Homo sapiens: one gene and its partner. The protein of the gene in region 1 purifies or fractionates together with the protein of each later gene. This does not show direct contact. Each region holds a gene or a part of one and is shown in the gene's direction. Other genes may lie near its edges.

Region 1 (7,365 bases):
GTTCACATGGGGCCTACATAATCTAAAGTATTTGTCCCAGTATTGCTACAAATAGCAAAATTTAGTCCTTACATCCCAAACCAAGTTAGGAGGAAAACCCATTTTTTTCTAGACTGTGAACTTGAATTAGGAATATGAAAACTGCTAAACCTAAAAACCCTTGTTTGGTCAGAGCTTAACTAAGGATGGTTAGTCACTGCTTTTTGGCTTGCTGAACTCCCAGAACCCCTAGTAGACTAAGTATATCAAATAAAAGTGCACAACTCCACTCATGAGCTTGGAAATACAGAACAGACCCCACCTATTCACTTCTGATTCAAATGCACAACCTCAAACTTAGTTTCCTTCTTCTTCAAGGATAGTAGTGTAAAAAACTGCCCATGGGAGCAACAGTTTAGGCCTAAATTTGGGATATAGTAAAATCTGACCTCAGAAATAAGGTGTTTGCCTGCCTGTGCATGCAGATACCCACATTTGGGGGCAAGGAAAGAAAAGGTATCTAGGGAAATAAAAAGAACTAGCTCAGGAATCATGTTTTCAGAACTCCAATACAGGGCCAGGTGAGAGGACTGCTTGAGACCAGCCTGGGCAACATGACAAGACCCCATCTCTAAAAAAATTAAAAACAGGCTGGGCATAGTGGTTCACACCTGTAATCCCAGCACTTTGGGAGGCTGAGGTGGCCAGATCACCTGAGGTCAGGAGTTCTCAATCAGCCCGGCCACCATGGTGAAACCCCGTCTCTACTAAAAATACAAAAATTACCTGGGCATGGTGGCACGCGCCTGAAATCCCAGCTACTCAGGAGGCTGAGGCAGGAGAATCACCTGAAACCAGGAGGCAGAGGTTGCAGGAGCCAAGATCCTACCCCTGCACTCCAGCCTGGGCGACAGAGAGACTCCGTCTCAAAAATAAATAAATTAGCCGGGCATGGTGGCGCACGTCTGTGGTCATGGCTACTCAGAAGGCCGAGGTGGGAGGATCCCTTGAGCCCAGGGGTTTGAGGCTGCAGTGAGCTATGACTGTACCACTGCACCCCAGTCTGGGTGACAAGAGTGAGACCCCGTCTCCAAAAAAAGTCCTAATACATGTTTCATCCTCTACCATGCCATTCAGTGAAGCCACCAAAGCTCATACAAGCTGGGAGTGAGGGGTAGGAAAGGTTCAATTTGGAATCCAGGCTATTTATTCTCACAATTGGCAAAGGTTTCTTCTAAATATGAAGATGCTATTTAGGATGTAAATTCTAGTTTTTCATTAACAAGGTTTCTTAATGCTGCTCTTTTAAAAAACATACTGAAAGCCGGGTGCAGTGGCTCATGTCTGTAATCCCAGCACTTTGGGAGGCCAAGGCAGGAGGATCACGAGGTCAAGAGATTGAGACCATCCTGGCCAACATGGTGAAACCCCATCTCTACTAAAATTACAAAAATTAGCTGGGCGTGATGGCACACGCCTGTAGTCCCAGCTACTCGGGAGACTGAGGCAGGAGCATTGCCTGAACCCAGGAGGCAGAGGTTGCAGTGAGATCGCGCCACTGTACTCCAGCCAGGCAAGAGCGAGACTCCGTCACAAAAAAAAAAAAAAAAAAACTGAAAAAGTTTTCCCAAAAAAACTAAAATTACATTCTGCCCGAGTTAGAAAACAGAAATTAGGACCGTAGATACAAGACCCTTATATCATTTCCCTATTAGCAATGCTACAACACTGGTAATTCTGTGTCACTGATAATTTTGTGTCAAAAATAACATGGCAGGTTTTGAAAAAATAAATCCAAATATGTTTGAATATGGATTGCTACATGTAAAATTTCCAGTCACTGAGAAAAACCAAGATCACACCAGATAAAAAGATTTAATCCTCAATAATTTTGCGTTCCTCAGCCGGGCGCGGTGGCTCAGGCCTGTAATCCCAGCACTTTGGGAGGCCGAGGAGGGCGGATCAGGAGGTCAGATCCAGACCATCCTGGCTAACACGGTGAAACCCTGTCTCTACTAAAAATACAAAAATTAGGTGGCGTGCGCCTGTAATTTCAGCTACTCAGGAGGCTGAGGCAAAAGAGAATCGCTTGAACCCGGGAGCGGAGGTTGCAGTGAGCCGGATCACGCCACTGCACTCCAGCCTGGGAGACAGAGCAAGATTCCGTCTCAAAAAAAAAAAATTATGGGTTCCTCATAGAATACCATAGTTTATTTTATTTTATTTATTTATTTATTTATTTTGAGACGGAGTCTCGCTCTGTCGCCCAGGCTGGAGTGCAGTGGCGCGACCTTGGCTCACTGCAAGCTTCGCCTCTCGGGTTGACGCCATTCTGCCTCAGCCTCTCGAGTAGCTGGGACTACAGGCGCCCGCCGCCACGCCCGGCTAATTTTTTGTATTTTCAGTAGAGAAGGGGTTTCACCATGTTAGCCAGGATGGTTTGGATCTCCTGACCTCCTGATCCACCCGCCTCGGCCTCCCGATCCACCCGCCTCGGCCTCCCGATCCACCCGCCTCGGCCTCCCAAAGTGCTGGGATTACAGGCATGAGCCACCGCGCCCGGCCAGAATACCCTAGTTTAAAACTGACTGCTTAATTACTTGCTTTTTCTCATCTATTGCAGCGGTGGATCTTGCTGACCTTTCTGAGGCAGGCTCCATTTCTTTCTTTAGTTTTTTTTTTTTTTTTTTTTTTTGAGACAGGGTCTCACTCGGGTTGCCTCGGCTGGAGTGCAGTGACACGATCACGGCTCACTGCAGCCTGGACTTCCTGGGCTCAAACTCCCGAGCAGTTGAGACCACAGGCGTTCACCACCATGCCCGGCTAATTTTTATATTTTTTGTAGAGACGGGGTTTCGCCACGTTGCCCAGGCTGGTCCAACTCCTGGACTCATGCTACCTGTCTGCCTCGGCCGTCCTCCTAAAGTGTTGGGATTACAGGCGTGAGCCACTGCGCCCGGCCTCAGGTTCTATTTCTTTTTAGAAATAATAAGACTAGAAAAATTAAGGGATAAATAAGTCTCCAATTATTCTGAACCCACAGCCCAGAATGGCTGCCCCCAAGTGACCAGAGAACAGACGGACAGGAAATGAGATTAGAAACAACTAGTAGCTGTGTCGCAAAATTGATAAGAGTCCTGGTTCTAGAACCGCGCTGCTTGGCCGCAATTCCTGGCTGCACCAATTTGGTAGCTGCATGACCTTAGAAAAGATATTTAACCTCTATGCTTGTTTCCTCATCTGTAAAAATGGCACTAATAGTACCCAACACTTACTTCATAGGAATAGTGTGTAGATGAAATGAATTAGGGCCGGGCGCGGTGGCTCACGCCTGTAATCCCAGGACTTTGGGAGGCCGGGGTGGGCGGATCACTAGGTCAGGAGTTCGAGATCAGCCTGGCCAACAGAGTGAAACCCCCGTCGCTACTAAAAACACAAAAATTAGCCAGGCGTGGTGGCGGACACCTGTAGTCCCAGCTACCTGGGAGGCTGAGGCAGGAGAATCGCTTGAACCCAGGAGGCGGAGGTTGCAGCGAGCCGAGACCACGCCACTGCACTCCAGCCTGGGCGACAGAGCGAGATTCCATCTCAAAAAAAAAAAAAAAATTAATTAGTGCATATAAAGCACTTGGAATAGCAAGCAGTCAATAATTATAGCAGCACTCTTTCTCTGGGAAAGAGCTCCCTCTTCCATCACAGAATCACATCGTACATTCTTTCATTGTCCCCAAAGACACACACCTTCCTCAAAGAAAAGGAACACAAGGCCAGGTCTTCCGAACCTCCATAGAAGATGTGGTAGGGATTCCTAACCTGAGCTGGGGCAAGGCGGTCTGTTTGCTCCCCAAATCTGTGAAACGCGGGCTTCAGAACATCTGACTGACTGCAAACATAGGTCATATTTTTACAAGACTTTAGTCCACAAAACATTTTCGCTCTCAAACCTTCACTACATTCACAGAATGCAGAAGCCGAGGCCCAGAGAAAAACTAGTCATCTATCTGTCCAAAGTCACCGGACGAATTCTGGGGAAAGGTCGAGGGAACTAGAGCTCCCGACTATGCAAACCCTAGAGGGTAAACTGGGGGCTAAGAGGGCCCCGTGCGTGTTTTGGCGGGCTAGGTCCTGGGCTTCAGGGCAGAGAAGAGGGCCGAGTGGATCGCCTTGCCTTACCTCCTCAGGATCTCCGGATTCGGTAAGCATCTTTTGCTCGTCCTCCAGTCCCATGTCTGGCTACGGTTCTAGATTCAACACGAGCAGCAACAGCGGCACCTAACCCAGTTCAGGATCAAGAAGGACTTGTAAGGGTCACTCAGCGGAAATCCGGCGATCTGGCCGGAAGTGCGGCACACTCATCGTGGTCGCGAACACATGCTCAGATTGGCATGTACTACCAGCCGCAGGCAGAGGTTAGGGGTAGCTGATGTTTGCACCCGAGGAGGCTTTGCTAAGAAACATCCCCTTAGTCATACCACACCCAAGTATAATTGATCTAGGAGTTTATCTAAAATAGTAGCTCCTAAGAGACTTGGAAAGTGTGCTAATTTCTTCGAAATTTCTTTAGAATAATTCACATTCTTCCCCATATCGCTTATGGAGCCGTCCTAACTGCTGACCTTTTCAAGATGGCGGTCCGCGGGCGACACTCTCGGGCTCGCGCACCTCCCCAAGATGGCGGCGCCCGAGGCCTGGCGCGCCCGGAGTTGCTGGTTCTGTGAGGTAGCGGCGGCAACGACCATGGAGGCCACGTCCCGGGAGGCGGCGCCAGCGAAGAGCTCGGCCTCGGGCCCCAACGCTCCCCCCGCCCTGTTCGAGCTGTGCGGGCGGGCGGTGAGCGCCCATATGGGGGTTCTGGAGAGCGGGGTGTGGGGTAAGTCGCGGGGTGAGGGGCTACCTCTGGCTAAGAGCAAGGGGCGGCCCAGCGGCCGGGGGGCGCGGGGGGCGAGGCCGGGAGGCCCGGGGCAAGGCCCAGCCTGGGGCGCTGAAAGCCAGCTCGTAGGATCGGAGAATGAATTTTGTGACTGACAGGGCTGGACAGAGTAAAGACGGAGACCTAAATGGGCAGGCTGACCCGCACCGCGGCCTGGCTCGGGGGCGCGGGGGGCGAGGCCAGGAGGCCCGGTCTGGAGCGAAGCAGGCTGGGCCCGGGCGACTGAGGCTGGATTGCGGCTGTGGGCCGCGCGAACTGACACTCGGCTGGGCCGGGCAGGAGAGTCTCGGATGTCGAACCGGTGGGCAGCGATGGCCCGGCTGCCCTAGGGCAGGGGCCGAGGTTAGGAGGCCCGGCCTAAGGCAAGGCCAGGCCAGGCCCGGGGCCACCGAACCTGACTGATGGCCCCGGGGCTCCAGCATCTGCCTGACACGCCACGGGGGTCGAGATTCCGGAGGCCAAGCCGATGGGCGGAGGGGAGGACAGCAGATTGGAGAGCGAGGGAATGGGGCAGGGGGAGAGGCCGAACGAAAGGGTCGGGGCGCCGCGGCCTGTCTGACGGCCCAGGGCTGACGGGAGCGAACCGACAACCGGGGTCTCGGGTGCCAAACTGACTAAGCGACCGAGCGACCGTGCGACCCGCAGGACAGGGAGCGCCGGAGGCCACTCGGATCGGCTCGAGCGGCGAGGAGGGACCGGAGAGCGAGTGGAGGGGGGCCCGGAGCGGCTTAAACAAGCGAGGGAGGCTCGAATGACGGACAGGCGGGAAGGGCCAAGGAGGCCCCAAGCGGGGCGACGGCCCGGGGATCCCGGACTGCCGGGCTGCCGTGGCAGGGGGCGCGGCGCCGCCAAGAGGCCTTGGGCTGAATGGGAGTGAACGGGGGCCCCAGGCCTGAAGGCGGCCGGGACCAAAGGGCCGGGCCTGGATGGAGGGCGGCCTGGGGCGCCGGGATGAACGGCCGGGGAGGGCGAACCGGCCAGTTGGGCTGGGAGGCGGGGCTGTGGGTTGGGGACCGCTGGCCGCGGCCTGGCCGCTGACGAGGGAAACTTGGGTCCGACGTGGGGCAAGTGAAAGAGGGGAAAGTGAGGCTCTGCCAAGCAGGCCTAGCCGCGCTGGGGACAGGGGAGGCCTCGGGCCTGAGAGGCTGCTGGCTCTGTGAGGGTGGGGTCGGGAGGCCGGGGTTGGAGTTGGGCGAAGAGGTGGCAGGCCCGGCCGAGGCCTGCTGGGGAGGGGGGCAGGAGAGCAGGCCCCGGGCCTGGAAGCGGCGCGGGGGAGGTTCCACCAGGAGGCCTTGCGGGTGGCCGTGGCGTCTTTGCAGGAGGAAGGCCCTGGTCAGGACAGGAGTGAGGACTTTGAGGACTCGAGGTTGCAGGGCGCGGAGTTTGAGTTATGCCATGAGGAGGGGGTGTGGGGAAAAGGCCCTGGAGTTTGGGGGGACTGAAGCTCCGGGATAAGCTGGAGGGTGGTCGGGGAGGCCCTTGGCTGTGGGAGTGGAGCCCAGTACCATGAGGCCTGAGTGTCCTGCATAGTGGTGGTGGAAGAGGCTTTTAGAAGTCGGCCGGTGTGCGGAGGGGACAGTGGAGGCCCCAGGCCAGCCAGCGGCTGAGAAGACAAGGGGCAGGCCGACCCATGGGGAACAGGAGGAAAGGCTCCGTAGAGCTGAGCAGGGAGCTCAGAAAAGTCCTAGGGCATGGGGAAGAAGGCAGAGAGGGTCTGGCTTTTCCGCCTGGAGCTTCTGGGATGCTAAGACTGGCTAAAAAGGAAGATGACTGGGTGCGGAGGCCCAGGTTGGGAAGCAGCAGCATTAAAGGTGCAGGCTAGAAAGAAGCAAGGAAAATCCCGGCTTAAGAAGAATGGAGAAAGGAAGAGAGGAGTTTGTGGGTAACTGGGGATGAGAATTCCTGTGGCTGCAAGAAGAGATGGCTAACTAGAGGGGAGCAGGTTGGAGGGAAAAGGGGTAAGGCTCTGGAGGAACTTCTTCCCGTGTGGCCTCTTCCCCCTAAAACAATTGACAGTTTACTGAATCTCCCTTTCCCCTTCTCCCTCCCCTACCACTGCTGTACATACCACCATCCCATTACTGGCTGAGCCCCCAGCCAAGTTGAGAGGAGACAGGGGAGGAAGAGCTCCTGTGGGCCTAGACCAGAAAAAGCTGAATCAAGTGAGGCCTTTTAGGAGAATAGCCAAGGAAGAGGCCTGCTAAGCATTGCTATTTTAGAGGAAGGTCTGTGTGGGCTAACAGCCAGGAAAGGCTTCCTGGAGGTAGTGGACTAGCATCGCTTTGTGTAAGGAGTTGGGGCAGCGGGTGTATAGAGGCAGCAGGAAAGGGTACAATGAGGAAACTTTAAAATAAGGTATATTATACCTTGAATACCAGGATATGGAGTTTGGACTTTATCATGAATGCAGCAGAGAGACCTCCAAGGGTTTTGAAGAGGGTAGTGTCATCACCAAG
Region 2 (7,856 bases), on another chromosome or scaffold:
GGGAAAAAAAAAAGTCTCTTTGTATTCCCAGTGTCTGTCACCATCCCTGGCATATAATACAAACTGAACTGAAATGACTAGACATGGATCAAGGAATCACCAACTTGGATGGTGAAAGAAGCAGACTTTGATTTAAGGAGTACTTTTATAAACTTTTATTTTTTCCATTTATGAGACACATTTGTAGGGGAAAAACTGTCTTCATTATGCCCTAGATGTGCTCATTCCTGAGATTCCCCTTTCTTATTTTATTTTTTCATAGAGATGGAGTCTTGCCATGTTGCCCAGGCTGGTCTCAAACTCCTAGGCTGAAGCGATCCTCCTGCCTTGGCCTCCCGAAGTGCTGGGATTACAGGTGTGAGCCACCATACCCATCTGAGATTCCCCATTCTAAAAGGAAAACATCTATCACTCAGTAATGAAGTTAATCACTATCCTTCATCCAGGGCTTCCCATTCTCTACTGCTACAATATACTTGGAATTTTGATCTGTTTAGAAGGTAGCCTTAAAAAAATGGTAATGGCTGAATGTGGTGGCTCATGCCTGTAATCCCAGCACTTTGAGAGGCCGTGGTGGGTGGATCACTTGAGTTTAGGAGTTCAAGACCAGCCTAGGTAACATGGTGAGACCCTGTCTCTACTAAAAATACAAAAAAAAAAAAAAAAGTTGGGCATGGCAGTGCAAGCCTGTGGTTCCAGCTACTTGGGAGGCTGAGGTGGGAGGATGGCCTGAGCCCTGGAGGCGGAGGTTGCAGTGAGCCTAGATTGCACCACTGCACTCCAGTCTGGGTGACACAGTAAGACCCTGTCTCATAATAAATAAATAAATAAATAACATGGATTTTTCTTGTATCATTATCCTGTTACTTCTTCCATCAACCTGACTCAATTATTAAGGTGTCTATAATAACATATACAGACTACTTAGAAAAAAAATTAAATACTTTTTCTTTCTCTTTATGTTATTTTATTCTAAAATTTTTGTTGATATTTAATAGTTGTACATATTTGGGGGCTACATGTGGTATTTTGATACATGTATACAATGTGTCATAAAATCAGAGTAACTGGGATATACATCACTTCAAACATCTTTTCTGCTTCTTGAAAAAAAACAATTTCTCTCTTAAAATTTCCATTTTTAAAATATCTTTCAAGAGGTTGTTGTAGCTGCACATCTGCTGGTGCTGGAGATAGATATAGTATCACTCCTTCCTCATGGGATCATGTCTTTTTTGTTTTGTTTTTTTCTTCTTTGTCTGTTTTGTTTTTTTGAGACAGGGTCCCACTCTGTCACCCAGGCTGAAGTGCAGTGGCATGATCACAGCTTACTGCAGCCTCGTCTTCTTGGGCCCACCTCAGCCTCCCGAGTAGCTGAGATTATACCACCACACTGATTTTTTGTAGAGACGGGGTTTCGTCATGTTGCCCCCTGTACCCAGCTAATTTTTTTTATTTTCGTAGAGATGAGGTATTGCTGTGTTACCCAGGCTGGTCCCAAACTCCTGGGCTTAAGCGATCCTTCTGCCTTGGCCTCCCAAAGTGCTGGGAGTGAGCCAGGCGTGAGCCACCAAACCTGGCCAGGGATCATGGTTTAATGGGAGTCAAGAGAAGTAAAACAGTGCCCGAGAAAGCCTATGTATTTGACCACATATAATTGTTCTGGAATGGTGGGAGTGTCTCATCAAGAGATGAAGCTTTTCTGTCAATCTTTGTTTTACTTATTTATTATTTATTTTAGAGGTAGTTTCTCGCTCTTTCACCCAGGCTGGAGTGCAGTGGTGGGATCATAGCCCAGTGTAACGTCAAAGTCCTGGGCTCCAGTGAACCTCCTGCCTGAGCCTTCCCAGTAGCTAGGACTACAGGTGCGGGCCAACAAGCCTGAATAATTTTTTTTTTTTTTTTTGAGACAGGGTCTTGCTGTTACCCAAGCTGGAGTGCAGTGATCTGATCATGGCTTACTGTGGCCTTGACCTCCTGGGCTCAAGTGATCCTCCTGCCTCAGCCTCACACATAGCTCAGACTACAGGTATGTGCTACCACGTCTGGCTAATTTTTAAATTTTTTGCAGACCGGCTAATTTTTTTTTTTTTGTAGAGATGGGGCGTCTCCCTATGTTGCCCAGGCAGGTCTTGAACTCCTGGCTTCAATGCCCAGGCTGGTCTTGAACTCCTGGCCTCAAGCGATCCTCCCACCTCAACCTCTGAAAGCACTGGGATTAAACTGTGAGCCACTGTCCCCGGCCTATTTATTTTTTACACATTTAATACCAAGGTGCTAGTGCTTTATTCATATGACCAAATGGGCTCTCCTTGCTGCAGTTGGTACTTAACAGACATGGGGTAGCTATGGCTCTTAGGAGCTGAACCTAAGGTCCTGGCCTTGGCCTCCCAGCCTGGATACTTCTTTTTTTTTCTTCCTTGAGATAGAGTCTCGCTCTTGTCGTCCTGGCTCCAGGCTGTAGTGCAATGGCATGATCTCGGCTCACTACAACCTCTGCCTCCCGGGTTCAAGCGATTCTCCTGCTCAGCCTCCTGAGTAGCTGGGATTACAGGCGCCCGCCACCACGCCCGGCTAATTTTAGTATTTTTAATAGAGACGGGGTTTCACCATGCTGGCCAGGCTGGTCTCGAACTCCTGACCTCAGGTGATCCACCTGCCTCGGCCTCCCAAAGTGCTGGGATTACAGGGGTGAGCCACTGTGCCCAGCCCCAGCCTGGATACTTTTTTTTTTTGAGACTGAGTCTCCCTCTGTCGCCAGGCTGGAGTGCAGTGGCACATTCTTGGTTCACTGCAACCTCCGCCTCCCGGGTTCAAGGGATTTTCCTGCCTCAGCTTCCTGAGTAGCTGGGACTACAGGTGCATGCCATCATGCCTGGCTAATTTTTTGTATTTTTAGTAGACACCGGGTTTCACCGTATTAGCCAGGATGGTCTCGATCTCCTGACCTCGTGATCTGCCACCCACCTCGGCCTCCCAAAGTGCTGGGATTACAGGCATGAGCCACCGCGCCCGGCCTAAATACTTGTTATGTGCAGGAACATATCTGATTCACTCTCTACTCTGTCCCCAGTGTTGTCACAGTGCCAGGCAGCAGTTGGAGCTCTGTAAATAACGATTGCATGAACAGGATGGCCACCCAGGACTCGGGAAAATGAGTATTACTCTTTGGTGCCTATTGACAGTTCAGGGCCCCAAGGTGGGTCCCAGGGTGTCTTTGAGCAGTAAGTGTTAACTTATCTGCAGGCCTCATATAATAGATTTGCTAAGGAGCACCTACTCACAGAGCAGTGATGCCCTTGATATTGTCAGCCAATTAATTCCTTAAGTACTTCAAGTTAGGATAGGCCTGCTGATTTGATTTTATCTGTCTTTTAAGATTGATCTTTGATCATGTCCCATTCCAGCTGGACCTCCTCATCTTCCCTCCTCCATTGCTAATAGTGTGGGATCTAATTACCTCATCATCCCTTAATTTATTTATGAAAAAGGCTGAGGTTAAAGAAAAGAAAGAAGAAACTCTCTTTGGCCCTTTGGGGACCTTCTGTAAAAGCTTTCCCTTCTGTTTCTCCCTCTTTATGCACAAGAAAACCTCCCTTTTTTGTCTCTGGGAAGTTAGAATAGTTCTTGTTTACAAATTTAACTAAATTAAACTTCCCTCCCAGGGCTGGGTGGAGGCCAGCCCTGTGGGTTAAGCCTGGCCTGTCGACTGTGGGTTAAGCCTGGCCTGTCGACTCCCGCTGGAATAATCAATCTATCAAAACAACCCATTGATCCTGAGGCAAACCGCTTTCAAAACCACCACATAGTTCCTGGACGTCCTGGCTTCCTCATGACACTTGGGGAAGAGGAGTCTTTTGAAATTTTAAATTTTATTATTACACAAGTAATACATGGATACATTCGTCTTGTAAAAATTTAACTTCAAAATTCTGTGGAATAAAATGTGAAAGGCCTTTTCTTTGCATCCCATCCCACAGTTAAGAGCTTCTGATGTATTTTTCTGTTTAGGCCTTTAAACTGCACGTTCATACACGTACACCTATATAAATGTACATTTAATTTTAAAAATAACATAAATGGTATCACTACGTAGGTGCCCTTCTGCTAGTTGTTTTCCCATTTAACATGTCCTGGGTAGCCAGTCAGACCACAGATCTACGTTTTAACGGCTGTAATCATATTTCAAAAACAGGATAGAGGCATTATTCATTTATCCATTTTCCTACTGATGGGTGTTAATATAGATTTCAATTTTTTGGTATTACAAACTATGTTGCAAGCAGCAGTTCTCTGGGAATTATCCATTCAAGTATGCACTTATTTTGGGCTCCCCATGTGCTCTACTCGGGGTTCGGAGTAAACAAAACCGACCTAAAAATAATTTTGAATGATAGAAAGGGGGCATTTTCTTTATCCAAGGGGGTGAGGCAGGCTGAAGATGGGTCTCTACTCCCTCCAAGACCATGGAGGGCGTCGGGGTGTCACCCCAGCTGTGAAAAAGGGACCCAGGACCCGCAGATGCTGGCGAGGAACAGGGGTGCGGAGCATGAGTCGGCTTTGCACCACGCCCTGGGGTCTCCAGCACTGAAGCGTTCAGTACCATGCAGAGCAGCTGGGAGCGGGTCCCGCTGGGCGGGGCCGAGCTGCGCGCGACCCTCGGCGCGCTCGGGGAGGCCCAGACAGGGGTGGCCTCTCTGGCCTCCGCTCCCGCGGGCTCTATGACACCGCACTGGCTCGCGGGACGGGGCGGGGTCGGGTGAGGGGGAGGAGACAGCCCCACGCTTTGCGACTCGCGGTGACCCCTACGCGGAACTCTCTCGCGGTAATTCGAAGTACCGCGCCTGCGTGCTGCAGTAGCGCCTGGTGGCGGTGGCAGTTTGCCCGCGGGTGTGTGAAGGGAGACAGTGTGGAGGCCACAGGGTACTCGCCACGATGAGCAGCACCTTAGCTAAGATCGCGGAGATAGAAGCAGAGGTAATGGACGCAGCTGGCGGTTCACTCTTAGTCTGAGCATTCCTTCTTTGGTGGCGTCGCTCCTTCCTGTTCTCCTTTGAGCCGCGTCAGGACCGGGCCTAGATTCCGCGACTTCTCTCAGCGAGGCCCGTGTTCCGACTGCCCTCTGCCACGATTAGGAGTCCCCGACTCTCCTCAGTCAGGGCCCCCTTTCCCCTCGTCCCGCGTCTACGCTCTCGGACTCCCCTTTGCCCGGGCCCGCGTTCCGCACCCCTGCACCTTAGGCCCTTAGTCCGTTCCCCCTCCCAGTGTTTGGCTCCTGTTCTGATGTTGTTTCTTTCCGTTTTGCTCTGAGAAACACTGAATCCTGTCCCTTATTCCATCTCTGACTTGGTCAGATAGTTCAGGATCTTTCCTCATCATCCTTCGCTGCGTCCCCCTTATTCCCCCTTTTCCCAGTGTCTACCCTAATGACCCCCTGATTCAGAGTATTTGCTCCCGGTAATCGGATCTGGAAGTAAAATGACATCTGTGTGGGAGCAGTTTATTCCGCCTGGATAGTGTGTGATTCCATTGCGTGCGGCCCTGAGAGCGCTTTACAATTAGGAAAGTGGTGTCCCAGTGTTAGATGGATCCAAACAGCTGCAAATAGTAGAAAAGGAACCCGCAGACGGGTTTCAGTCTAGTCTGGGGGCACTAATTGGAATGACCTTAATCGTCTTTCCTCTTTGGGCTTTGCTTTGCTTTGTAGTGAGGGAAATGAGCTGGATGGAGGAGATAATGGACTTTTACTCTTTTAAAGCCTGTAAACTGGGTGTGCTAACATTAGTAGGACTTGGGGAAAAAAATTATCCTCTCAAAGCTGGGGGAAGCGTTCACTGCTTCTAATTTATGGCTGTGATTCCTCCCTTTTAGATGGCTCGGACTCAAAAGAACAAGGCCACAGCACACCACTTAGGGCTGCTTAAGGCTCGTCTTGCTAAGCTTCGTCGAGAACTCATTACTCCAAAGGGTGGTGGTGGTGGAGGTCCAGGAGAAGGTTTGTGTTCTTCTTCAATATATATATTTTTAGGTATAATTTTTGTCAAAATAGTACATACATGTGGTTTAAAAATAACTAAAGATGGCCCAGTGCAGTGGCTCAACGCCTGCAATCCTAGCATGCTGGGAGGCTGAGATAGGAGGATCACTTGAGGCCAGGAGTTCAAGACCAGCCTGATCAACATAGACCCCCATCTCAAAAAAAAAAAAAAGTTTTTTAAAAACAGAAAAATAACTAAAGATGTTCTACTAAAGTAGATTTATATTTTCTAAGCATGAATTCTTGAACTGTGTTTATTTTTATTCTGCCGGTTTCAGAGGCAAATGAATATTGTCTAAGTGTACTGTAGTTTTATTTATATCCTGCACTGATACAAAATAGATTTACATGCGCTGGGTGCAGTGGCTCACCCTTGTAATTCCAGCACTTTGGGAGGCTGAGGCGGGAGGATTGCTTGAGGCCAGGAGTTCGGAACCAGCAAAGCCCTGTCTCTATGGGCTTAGAAATGAGGGGTCCCCATAGGTATGAAAGAAGATGTACCAAAAAAAAAAAAAGGCTGGGTGCGGTGGCTCACGCCTGTAATCCTAGCACTTTGGGAGGCCAAGGCGTGGATCACGAGATCAGGAGTTCAAGACCAGCTTGGCCAGCATGGTGAAACCCCATCTCTACTAAAAATACAAAAATTAGCTGGGCATGGTGGCGCATGCCTGTAATCCCAGCTATTTGAGAGGCTGAGGCAGGAGAATTGCTTGAATCGGGACCCAGGAGGCAGAGGTAGCAGTGAGTGAGATTGTACCACTGCACTCCAGCCTGGGCTACAGAGCTAGACTCTGTCTCAAAAAAAAAAAAAAAAAAAAAAAGTATCCTAGCATGGTGGTGCATGTTTGTGGTCTCAGCTACTTGGGAGGCTGAGTTGGGAGGACTGCTTGAACCCAGGAGGTTGAGGCTGCAGTGAGTTGTGATGGCACCACTGCACTCCATCCTGGGTGATAGAGCGAGATCTCATCTTAAGAAAACCAAAGTAGGGCCAGGCGCGGTGGCTCACTCCTGTAATCCCAGCACTTCGGGAGGCCGAAGTGGGCAGATCACAGGTCAGGAGTTCGAGACTAGCCTGACCAACATGGTGAAACCCCGTCTCTGCTAAAAATACAAAAATTAGCTGGGCATGGTAGCACGAACCTGTAATCCCAGCTACTCAGGAGGCCGAGGCAGGAGAATCGCTTGAACCTGGGAGGTGGAAGTTGCAGTGAGCCGAGATCATGCCACTGTACCCCAGCCTGGGTGACAGAGCTAGACTCTGTCTCAAGAAAAAAAAAGAAAAAACAAAACCAAAGTAGATTTATATTGGCTTACAGAAATGTAAACCTATATCATCAACAAGATTAAAAATAAGTAAAAAAATTGATGCAAAGGGAAAACGTAGGAAAAATAAGTCGAAGCCAAGCGAGATAAGATTTAGGACTAAAAGGAATGGCGTAAGATCTGTGCACCTGGTAGAGAAGGGCCACAGATTTGACTCTGAACTTGTTGGCAGCCATTGTAAAAAGAAAAAAGAAAAAAAGAAAACCCAGTCAGTCATACAATTTACAGAATTTGAAAGACAAAAAAACAAAAACAAAACTCTTTTTAATTAATTAATTTGTTTATTTTAGTTATAAAAGGGCAGCTCCTCCATAGGCAGAGCAGGGCTACACCATAGGTAGAGTAGCTAACAACTCTATTTTTGGATCATTTTTCATACATATATTTGGGCTGTACCTTTTTTTTTTTTTTTTTTTTCGAGACAGGGTCTTGCTCTGTTGCCCAGGCTGGAGTACAGTGGTGTGATCACAGCTCACTGCAGCCTCAACCTCCTGGG

The links. Proteins that work in one complex are often made in the same cells at the same time.
Region 2: the proteins of LRRC41 (region 1) and DRG1 purify together in Homo sapiens (affinity purification with mass spectrometry; 5 studies listed by BioGRID and IntAct, with this or other methods). This does not show direct contact.

Annotation. Positions count from the first base shown.
Region 1 is NC_000001.11:46,300,608-46,307,972, reverse strand, and holds the start of LRRC41 (leucine-rich repeat-containing protein 41), read left to right. Parts: upstream 1-4,356; 5' UTR 4,357-4,650; coding exon 4,651-4,849; intron 4,850-4,941; exon of another isoform or gene 4,942-4,987; coding exon of another isoform or gene 4,988-5,210; intron 5,211-7,365. Other genes in the region: UQCRH (cytochrome b-c1 complex subunit 6, mitochondrial isoform 1 precursor), read right to left, coding at 4,153-4,206. UniProt on the Homo sapiens protein: Probable substrate recognition component of an ECS (Elongin BC-CUL2/5-SOCS-box protein) E3 ubiquitin ligase complex which mediates the ubiquitination and subsequent proteasomal degradation of target proteins.
Region 2 is NC_000022.11:31,394,749-31,402,604, forward strand, and holds the start of DRG1 (developmentally-regulated GTP-binding protein 1), read left to right. Parts: upstream 1-4,855; 5' UTR 4,856-4,935; coding exon 4,936-4,977; intron 4,978-5,871; coding exon 5,872-5,995; intron 5,996-7,856. UniProt on the Homo sapiens protein: Catalyzes the conversion of GTP to GDP through hydrolysis of the gamma-phosphate bond in GTP. Appears to have an intrinsic GTPase activity that is stimulated by ZC3H15/DFRP1 binding likely by increasing the affinity for the potassium ions.